2 linked regions of the Homo sapiens genome follow. The protein of the gene in region 1 interacts with the protein of each later gene in a biochemical or structural test. Each region holds a gene or a part of one and is shown on either strand. Other genes may lie near its edges.

The links. Proteins that work in one complex are often made in the same cells at the same time.
Region 2: the proteins of PTMS (region 1) and RXRB form a complex in vitro, tested with the Homo sapiens proteins (one large-scale study listed by BioGRID).

Annotation. Positions count from the first base shown.
Region 1 is NC_000012.12:6,763,816-6,769,751, reverse strand, and holds the start of PTMS (parathymosin), read right to left. Parts: upstream 3,390-5,936; 5' UTR 3,047-3,389; coding exon 3,002-3,046; intron 150-3,001; coding exon 78-149; intron 1-77.
Region 2 is NC_000006.12:33,194,992-33,198,456, forward strand, and holds part of RXRB (retinoic acid receptor RXR-beta), read right to left. Parts: coding exon 3,317-3,465; intron 2,951-3,316; coding exon 2,771-2,950; intron 1,616-2,770; coding exon 1,443-1,615; intron 1,046-1,442; coding exon 916-1,045; intron 712-915; coding exon 579-711; intron 476-578; coding exon of another isoform or gene 464-475; coding exon 372-463; intron 60-371; coding exon 1-59. UniProt on the Homo sapiens protein: Receptor for retinoic acid. Retinoic acid receptors bind as heterodimers to their target response elements in response to their ligands, all-trans or 9-cis retinoic acid, and regulate gene expression in various biological processes.

The sequences.
Region 1 (5,936 bases):
GAAAGCAGAGGAAGGATGAGATGATTGGGAGGGAAGATGGTAGGGCAGATGTGGTCCTCTCCCCCACCCCTCCACACCTCCACCACTTCTTTCTTTCGCTCTTTCCGGCTTGCCTTCTCCTCCACCTTCTCCTTCTTCTCCTTCAGGTCCTGCAAAGGAGAAAGAGGTCACCTTTCTCACCACAAATGGCTTGCAGCCCCTAAGTCCCTGCAGCCCCAGTTCTCCCTCTGTAGTGAGCTTAGAGGTGTGTGAACTGAATAAGGTGGCCACAGCTTAGAGACAGAATAGGGGCCCTAGGGTCCTTACATTAGGGCCATGAAGGGGTTGAGACCAAACACCTCCTTCCCCAAGACCCAAGGTGAGGTGGGAAAGGGATGAAGAAGCAGGAGCGGGCAACCAGGGTAATGATCCCCACCCCCATCAAGTTCTCCCAAACCTCACTGGCTGAAGAGTTCAGCTCAGCAAAGCAAATCCTCTCCATCTGCTTGCAGCCTCAGTGCCCCGCCCCCTCCTGTGTCCCTCCGCCTCCCTTGCCTGCCCCGCCACTGCCCGCCCAGCTCTGCCTTTTGTCTACCTCTGGGGCCTTTTCCTGAGGACTCTCTCTCCTGGGCATCCCTCCCAGCTTCCCCTTCAGCTTCTAAGGTCTTTGTTTCTCTCCATCTGTGTCTCCCTAATCCTCAGGCCCCTACTTGGCCAAACACTACACCTTAGCACATTCCCAGCACCCCTCCCACTTTCTGCCCTCCCCGCCCCAAAACAGTTCAAGTAGTTTCCTCTATCCCTGCCTCCCATGGTGTATGCATGGGTGTAGTGGAAGTAGCCATTTACGGTGGAAATGTAGGTGAAGTAGAAGAGAAAACAAGGAGGGGAAGAGTAGCAGGCGTGGGAAACAAGGAGAGAGCAACAAACAAGGTCTGTGACTGGGGTGGGATAGGAATGGAGAAGAGGGAGGGACCAGTCTAGGAGACCCTCCCACCAGCCAGCCCCTCTCCTTCACCCCAAGATCCTAGCAGGCATAGGTTGACGTCCTGTGCTGATATGGCACATCTGAGTCCCTTCTGGACACTACACTAGCCTCCCAATTCAGATTCCAGTGCTCTCCCCACCCACTCCTTGGCAGGCACAGTGTAACACGGTAGGTGTCCTTGTGTGATCTGATCTGGTGTTGGTGTGCCACGCTGTGTATCTGATTCCATGTGAATGGAAGTCTCCTGTGTGAGATCACCCTGGGCGGGGGGGTCCTTTCTGGAACAGGATAGGGGATAGGAGAGGAGCCTGGTGCAGAACGGCTGCCCTGGGGGGCACTCAATTCCCTTCTCCCTTTAAGGGTAGCTCAGAACTCTTCACTCTCACTCCAGAGAGGGTGCCCTTCCACCCCACCGTGAGGTCTTCATTTCTGTGCCACAAGGTCAGTATGGCATTTCCACTACCTAGGGGGCTCTTCCCTACGTCCTGGGCCAGGAGAGCAAAGAGCTGGTCAGCTTCTCTCTGGGGGCCCCAGCACCAAAAGTCTGTATGGCCCTGGCCTGACTTTCCCATCTGGGCTGATGCAGGGAGGGAGAATACCAGAGACCAAAGTTCAAGGGGCCGGGCCCTCTCCTCCCCTGTTCTGTCCTTCTGGTCACTGTCCTTCCATGATCCCTTTTCCAGGAGAATATGTGACCTGGGCCCTAGGTCTTCTGCTAAGCAGCCCTCTGGCCTCATTTACTCAACACAGGCACACACACCGACACCGGCCGACAGCCATGCACAGACACAGTTAGAGAGGAGCACCCACGCGATGGGAGACACATGGCCCAGCGTTGGGCCATTCTGGTCCACACTCTTGAGACAGCACGGGAGCACAGCGGAGCCACTCAGCACTCACAAAGCGACAACATGGCTCCAGAACATCTACGTCTCCACATGCACACATGTAACTGACACGGGCAGTCCCACACACTCGCTGGATTTCAGACATACAAAGACACCTACTCAGTGAAGTCACATGCCACCGCACAGCCCGCCGGAGGGCCACACGGGCGCACCTTGGCAGATCGCACACAGCCCCTCTCCCACCGCCGTTAATCCCATTGGCTCCCCCCGTTTCACTCCGCGGGCCTCCGGGAGACCTGTGTGACGGCCCCTCAGCAACCACCGCGCCCCCCCCCCCCGCCATACACATACACACACAAGATAGGGCTCCCAGCCCCCAAACCCCGGCCGCGTTAATTTCCCAAAGCGACACTCCGCAGGTTCCCTGGGGAAATTAGAGGAAGGCTGGAAGAGAGGCAAGGGCGAACGGATGGGGCCGGGGAAGGGAGCTGATGAGGGCGAGGACAGCTCGACGCAATGCCATGCAATGCCCAGCCTCGGCTTTTTCGAAGGCTAGTCCTGCCCCGCTTCTAATTTTTAGGAATTCGAGATTCTTTCAGTGTGTATGCGGGAAGGGGACGATGAAGAGAAAAGAAAGCTGAAAGCCAGCTGAGGGGAGGGAACGAGAAAACAGAGGCGGCCGCCGTCCGGGGAGAGAAGCGAGCGACGGTCGGGCCGCGGGGAGGGGCCCGGAGGAGCAGCCTCCAGGGAGAGTCCTGTTTACACTTGAGGATCTCAAACCGCTTAGCGAGGAAAGGTGAGGTCAGGTTGCAAGCAAAGACGCGGCAGCGGGGCGCAGGGAGGGGGCGCGGCAAAGTGAGACTCGGGGCGTTCGGACGGGAAGCCGGACGGGATCCGGTCAGCGAGGTGGGGCCGAAGAGGGGTGGGGACGGCTGCGGGGGACGGCGCGACCGGAGCGGCGAGGCCGGGCGCCGTGGTGCGCGCAGGGCAGCTAGAGGGCGCTGGCGCTAGCCGCGCGGAGCCGGGAAAGGAGCTCCGGGCCGGGGAGCGGTGGGAGGGCGCAGTGGGGTCCGCCAGGACCCGGGCGCAAGGGCCGCGCGGGGCCGTCGGGGGCGGCCTGGGGCGAAGGACCGCGCCGGGCCCCAGGGCTGCGCGAGGTCCGGGCCGCCGCCGCCCCCGCCCGTACCTTGGCGCTCAACTCGGCCGCTGCCTCCACGCTTTTCTCCGACATGGTGCCGGGGCCGGGGCCGGGGCTGGCGGGGAGCCGGGGTCCCGGGGCCGAGACGGAGGGGCCCTGGACGGCGGAGGGTGGCCGCGGCCGGAACCTGGCGCGGTGGCGGCGGCGGCGGCGACAGCGGCAGCGGCGGCCGCTCGGCAAGCTGGGTCTCTGGAAGAGGCGGCAGAGGCGCGCGGGGTGGGGCGGGGGTGGGTCTGGAGCGGAGACCCGCAGGGCTGCGGCCGTCCGGAGGGCGGGCGGAAGGGCGGTGCAGGCGGTGGCCGGCGCGCTCGGCCGCGGTAGCTCGATCCCGGGCTCGCCGCCCCCGCACCAGCAGAGCTGCCGCCGACCAGCCGCTGCCGCCCCCGGGAAGGGAACCCGCTTATAAGGCGGCGCTGCCCGACGGGAGGGGCTTCCCAGGGGTGGGGCAGGCGGGAGCGGGGAGGAGAGGAGAGGGGAGGGGGATGAAAGAGGAGGTTGGAGAGGTGGGGATAGGAGGATGAAAGCGAGGGGAGGGAGAGCTAGGGAGTCGGGAGGGAGGACGAGACCAGGAGGGGGAAATGGAGAGACTGACGGCCGCGGAGAAAGAGTGGGGCGAGGAGGTGGGAAGGGGTGGGGTTCCTGCGGGGAGGCACCTTTCCAAATCCCAACCTACTGCCTGCGAATGTGGAGTCTGGCTTTTGGGGGCGGACTGGAGAGGTGGCCAGAATCCTACTGACCCCAAAAAAAGCCCTGGGATTTTGCCAAGGGGTGGGGTGAGGGGAGCAGATGGGAAGATAGGGCAGGTATTTGAGAAACCAAAAGCTTAAAGAAGAGGAAGAGGGTTCGGGCGCTCCTTCCACACCACGCCGGATTTCCCCCTCTCATCCTCCATCCACATTCTCTGGATGGCCTTGAGGAGGGATGGGAGGGCAGAAAGGGCGGCCCAGCCTTCTGTCCCGCCAGATTGACACTTGTGACCCTTGCCGGGTGCCTCCCTTCCTGGCCCCGTGCTGTGAGCCGGGGGGAGTCAGGCCCCCTGGTCTCCTTTGCTGTCTTCCAGCTCTCTTCCATCTTCTACCTCTCTTATTCGCCCGTCTCACCTCACTTTTATTCGCCTGGTCCTTCTATTTCTCTTCATCCGTCCTCAGTCATCTGTACCTAGACCCCTCCTTCACAACCAATTATAACTCGAATCGCTCCCATTCTTCTCTCACCTCTTCTCCACTCCTCACTGACTCTCTTCTGCCCTTCCACCTCTGGTCTCTTTCCCTATCTTTCCCAGACAACCCTGCTCTTGTCTTATCTGAGTCAGGCACCTGGCCCTCTATTCTTGGCTGGCTTTCCTCAACTCCTCTTTCTGTCCTCATTTTTTACATTTTCCATCCTTCAGCTTTTCTCATTCCTCTGCTGCCATCTTCCCTAGCCTTTCTGGGTTATATTTGCCTCCTTTGCAAATATAATACAGGTCCAGGTCTGGAGTTCCAGCCCCACCCTATTCCACACATCCTCAGCTCCTCGCCCTCAATCTCGGTATCTTTGAGTCATTTTGAAAAGCTTGGGATTTCAGAAGGGAACAGGGGCTGGGTTGTGTATTAAAGGTCAGGAAGGTGGACAGAGTGGAAGGCTGGGGTTTGGAAAAAGACCTTTGGTGTGCGTGCACTCCCATATTTGTCTGTCATTATCATTATTCCTCATCTTATTATTTTCATTTTATTAATAAAAAACTACGTTGATGATCATTATCATTATTTTGTGTTTGAGTGCTTAAATACACCATCTTTTGGTCCCTTGATGTACACGCCTCCCAGTTTCTCTTTCTGACTTTTCTATCAATATTTCAGTCTCAGTCTCCTCAAAAATCTTGGGGCCCCACCCAGGATTTTTCCTTGCCGGACTCTGTCCATCTTTTCTGAGATCTTTCCATGTCCCTCTCTCAATCTGTTTCTCTGACTCACTGGCTGATGTCTTCAGCCGTCTCTCACCGTCTCCATCTCTGTACTCCTCTTGCTTCATTTATCTCCCTCTCCTCGATCCTTTGCTACTCCCCCCCCCGCCCAACCAACAACCCAGTCTCCCAGTCTCGCTCCCTCCCCATCAGGCTCTTTCCTCTCCCTCCCGCCTTCCTTTCCTCTTCCCTCCACTCCACCTCCCAGCCCCGCCTGCTGTCTCGGACACCCTGCTGGGCTCTTACCCTGTTGCCCTGGTAACCGCCCCCCACTCCGGTCACCTCCACTCCTCTCCCCCCTCCAATCACCGCCACCAACAACCTCCATCCACCTTCCTCCTATTTTTCCTGATAGCCAATAGAAACCCTGTTGCCAGGTGGAATGCTCATTTGAATCAGCCAATCCAGAAGCCTAACTGCTTGCCCTGCCTTATATGGGGATGTGAGGAGGGCCACTCCCCCAACTCCAGCCCCACAGGGGACCAGCCCCTCCAGTGTCCCTTCTCCCCGCCCTAAAGAGAGGCTGGGACACTCCCTCTCACCCTTCCATAAGGGACCTGGCCTCCCACTTCTCTAACTGGGACCACCAGGGTTAGCGTGGGCTGTGGGCCGGACTGTGGGCTGGGCCTCAGGGCTGGGGGTGGGAATGAGGTGTGATTAGGGAAGGGGAGGCGGAGGGAGCCGGGAATTTTGCCCAGGGAGGGGTGTCTGGGAGCAGAGGCAGCTGCAGTGGAAAATTCCAGAGAGATGGAGAGGCAGAGAATGGGAATCCTGCCCCAAAGCCCAAGGGAGTGCCTTGAGAATCTAAGAGCTTGAACACTAGGGTCCGAGGGACCCCAGGGAAAAGATCTAGAAAGCTGGAGGCCTGGATCGAATTCCTTTCCTGGTGGATGAAGCATCCTTTAGCCATCTCTCTCTGGTTGGACAACAAACCAGTCTTCTGAAGTCTTGGCTTCATGAGAAAGAAGCTGGAAGTGA
Region 2 (3,465 bases), on another chromosome or scaffold:
TGCATACACTTTCTCCCGCAGGACCTCCACCTCACTAGGGTTGGAGAGGCCCTTGGCATCTGGGATGGCAGGGAAGAGAGGAGGAAGAGAAATGAAGACAAACCAAATCAGGATGGCCATGCAGATGTGAGCCACAGGATGCCCCTTTTGGGCTGCACTTGCTTGCCCTTTACCAGAGGCCTGGCAAGGGAAGCAGGGCCCACTGGGTTTGTGGGATGGATCCGTGGATGTGGGTTTTTCCTCGGCCAGTTGGGAGATTTCCAGGTTGAGGGTCTTACTGAGGGGGATAGCTGGGTAACTTAGGAGTCTCGGAGAAGAGGAGGCTCCAAGGTTGCCTTGGCCTTGAGAGACAAAGGTAATCCTCCTCTTACCTGGATTAAACAGAATGATTGCCCTCAGGCAGCCAAGCTCTGTCTTGTCCATCCTCATGTCACGCATTTTGGACACTAGCTCTGTCAGCACCCTGGAGAGGGACCTGCAGGTCACTCAAAGGTCACAGCTCAGCCAGCCTTGGACACGGACCAGCCTATAGCCCCACCCCCTCTATCTACATGCCAGCCTAGCCGAGGGCCACTGACCGATCAAAGATGGCTCCTACTCCTGCTGAATGGGCTGAGTTGCGGTGCACGTGAAGACCTGTGGCAAGGAGGATGCCATCTCGAACATCAATGGATCGGTGTGAGAAGGAGGCAATGAGGAGTTCATTCCAGCCTGGGTGGGGCAGCAAGGGTCAGGAGCCAGAAATCAGGCCAAGGGATTCAAAGCACATCAGTGGAAGAGAAGGAGAAAAGAGGTGGCGAGGTCAGCAAGTTTGGCTCCCTGGGTACGCAAGGTAAGGCCACTGGGGTCACTAAAGATCGGGAAGTCAAAGAGGGGTCAAATGTCAAGAAGTCAAAGGGATCCAAGGTCACTGACCTGCCCGCAGCAATATGACCTGATCATCCAGAGGCAAGGAGGAAAAGTGTGGGATCCTCTTCGCCCACTCAACAAGCGTGAATAGCTGTTTGTCAGCTGCCTGACAGATGTTAGTCACAGGGTCATTTGGCTGCAGGGGACGGGGGTAAGAGTTATGGAAGATTTTGAGATATGCTGGGAGCCCCCTTGTAAGAGGCTTTTGACACCCCCTCCTTACATATAGTCTTCCTGTGAGCCCCATCCAAACCAATCCCTGTAAGTGAGTCTTCTCTTCTGGCATTAGTGCAAACAATTATTTATTTGGGACATGCCTATGGTTCTGCCAGTGGGTTGTTTGGGGAGTGGAGACAGAAGGAGCTATCACATCCACCTCAGATGTTTGAAAGACCTTGTTTGGCAGCACCTCCAGTCCCAAGTAGTGTTAGGAAGGTTATGAGGGGAAAGGAGGGGGAGGGGATGTAGAACAGACCTAGACTGCCTCCCCCAACCCCCATCACGAAGGAGAGTGGATTGACCCCAACACTCACGCTGCTGCCGCTACCCCCGGTTCCCCCAGGACCCTCAACGCCCTGGTCACTCTTCTGTTCCACAGCAAGCTCTGCCTCCAGGATCCTGTCCACAGGCATCTCCTCGGGGGCTCCCCCAGCCCCCTCCCCATCCCCATCCTTGTCCTTTCCCCGCTGACGCTCCTCCTGTACCGCTGCAGGGGGAAGGGGGAGAGAAAAAATGGAAAGTCAGCAGCCAGCCATGAAGGGGTTCCACAAATATCCTTACGGCCTCATCAGGATCTCATGGCCCTTGGGAGATATTTATAGGAATTGGGGAAGTCACTAGAAAGGGTGGACTGGGGGCAGCCCTGAAGGAAGGGTTATAAAAGGGCAGGTAAGTCAGTCGGGAAGGGTGAGGTAGGTAAAAGAATTAGGGAGGAATTTAAATGGAGAGCCTACTACATGGTTAAAAAAAACATGCCAAGATTCAACCTGAGAAAGCTGATTGAAAAAAAAAATTTTTTTAAATAAAATATGCCAAGAAACATGCTAAGCACATTTTACCATTCACTCAATTATCATAATGATGCTGGAAGCATTTATTCTCATTTTTAAGATGAAGAACTCGGGGTTCAAAGAGATTAGTTTGCTTAAATTCATATAATACATGGCAGGTCATACAACTGACTCTAAGTGTGTCTGAGTGCAAATCTTGTGCTCTTCTGACTCAACAAATAGGCAGTGAAAGGAGCACTGGCCTAGGTCTTTGAAGATGTGGGTTCTGATCCCAAACCTGCCTGCCACTCCTTTGTTGCATGACCTTGGGAAAGCCAAGCCTCAGGCTCATCTTCTCTAAAGTGGGTGTTTTGACCAAGATATGCTCTAAAGTGTCTCTCAGAATCCTAGGAATCTGACTTAAGAAGATAAGATGGAGACACAGAAGAAGGAAGGGAAGCCCTGAGGTCTTCAGTAAAGTCTGTAAGCTTAAGAGTGCCCAGTCCCAGGAGTTAGAGGAAAGATCACAGATAACAGGAGACAGAGACCAGAGAAGGTCCATGGAATCAGAGGAGGAACCACTCAGGTTAGAAATGGGGAGACAGCCCATCATGGCTAAGGAAAAGTTATCCTATCCTAGGATCAGTCTAGGGAGGGGTCATATGTGCAGGCCACAGAGGCCTAACCATTAAGAAGGAAACTCAAGGGCCAGAACAGGGTAACAGGGAGGAGAGCTGCGAAGGGAGAGAGAAATCAAATATCGCCCTCTAGAGGAGAGAGAGCAGTCCACCCTTCCAGAGAGGTACACAGTCTGAGTGGGATAAGGGAGAAGGGCATGTGGTCTAAGACGCCTGGGCAGGGCGGGTCCTTACCCTCCCTCTTCATGCCAGTGGCCAGGCACTTCTGATAGCGGCAGTACTGACAGCGGTTCCGCTGGCGCTTGTCCACTGTGCAGTCTTTGTTGTCCCGGCAAGAGTATGTAAGGTCTTTGCGGATGGTGCGTTTGAAGAAGCCCTTGCAACCCTCACAGCTGTAAACCCCGTAGTGTTTGCCTACAGGGAAAGGGGAGGAGCAATAAGAAGGTTGCATGGAGACACCTTCACCATTTAGTCTGTTTCCAATCTCCCCCTAGCAAAACTTAAAGTCCTCCCTGTTTGCCAAATACAGAGATAGGGAACCAGGAGCTGAGTGATGATCCAGTCCCAGTCTCCTCACTGTTCAGAAACCCTACACGCTGCTTCCTTTTCCCTCTGACCTTCCCCCCAATCGCGTCCTACATCTCAGCTTCAGCTTCTTTACTCCCATCAGGCCTCCCCCAGGTCACTTGCTCTGACCAAACTCCATAAGCCCTGGGAATCCCACAGGTGATGATACATGGCCCAGACTCTCCCTCTCTGTTCATCCTCTGAGCCACATACCTGAGCTTCTGTCCCCGCAGATTGCACATAGCCGTTTGCCAGCCCCAGGGCCACCTGGAGGGGGTGGACAGTGCAGGCCCCGGACCCCTAAGACTGGTGGCTTCACATCTTCAGGGGGGCCAGACCCACCCCCAGGGAGTGACACTGTT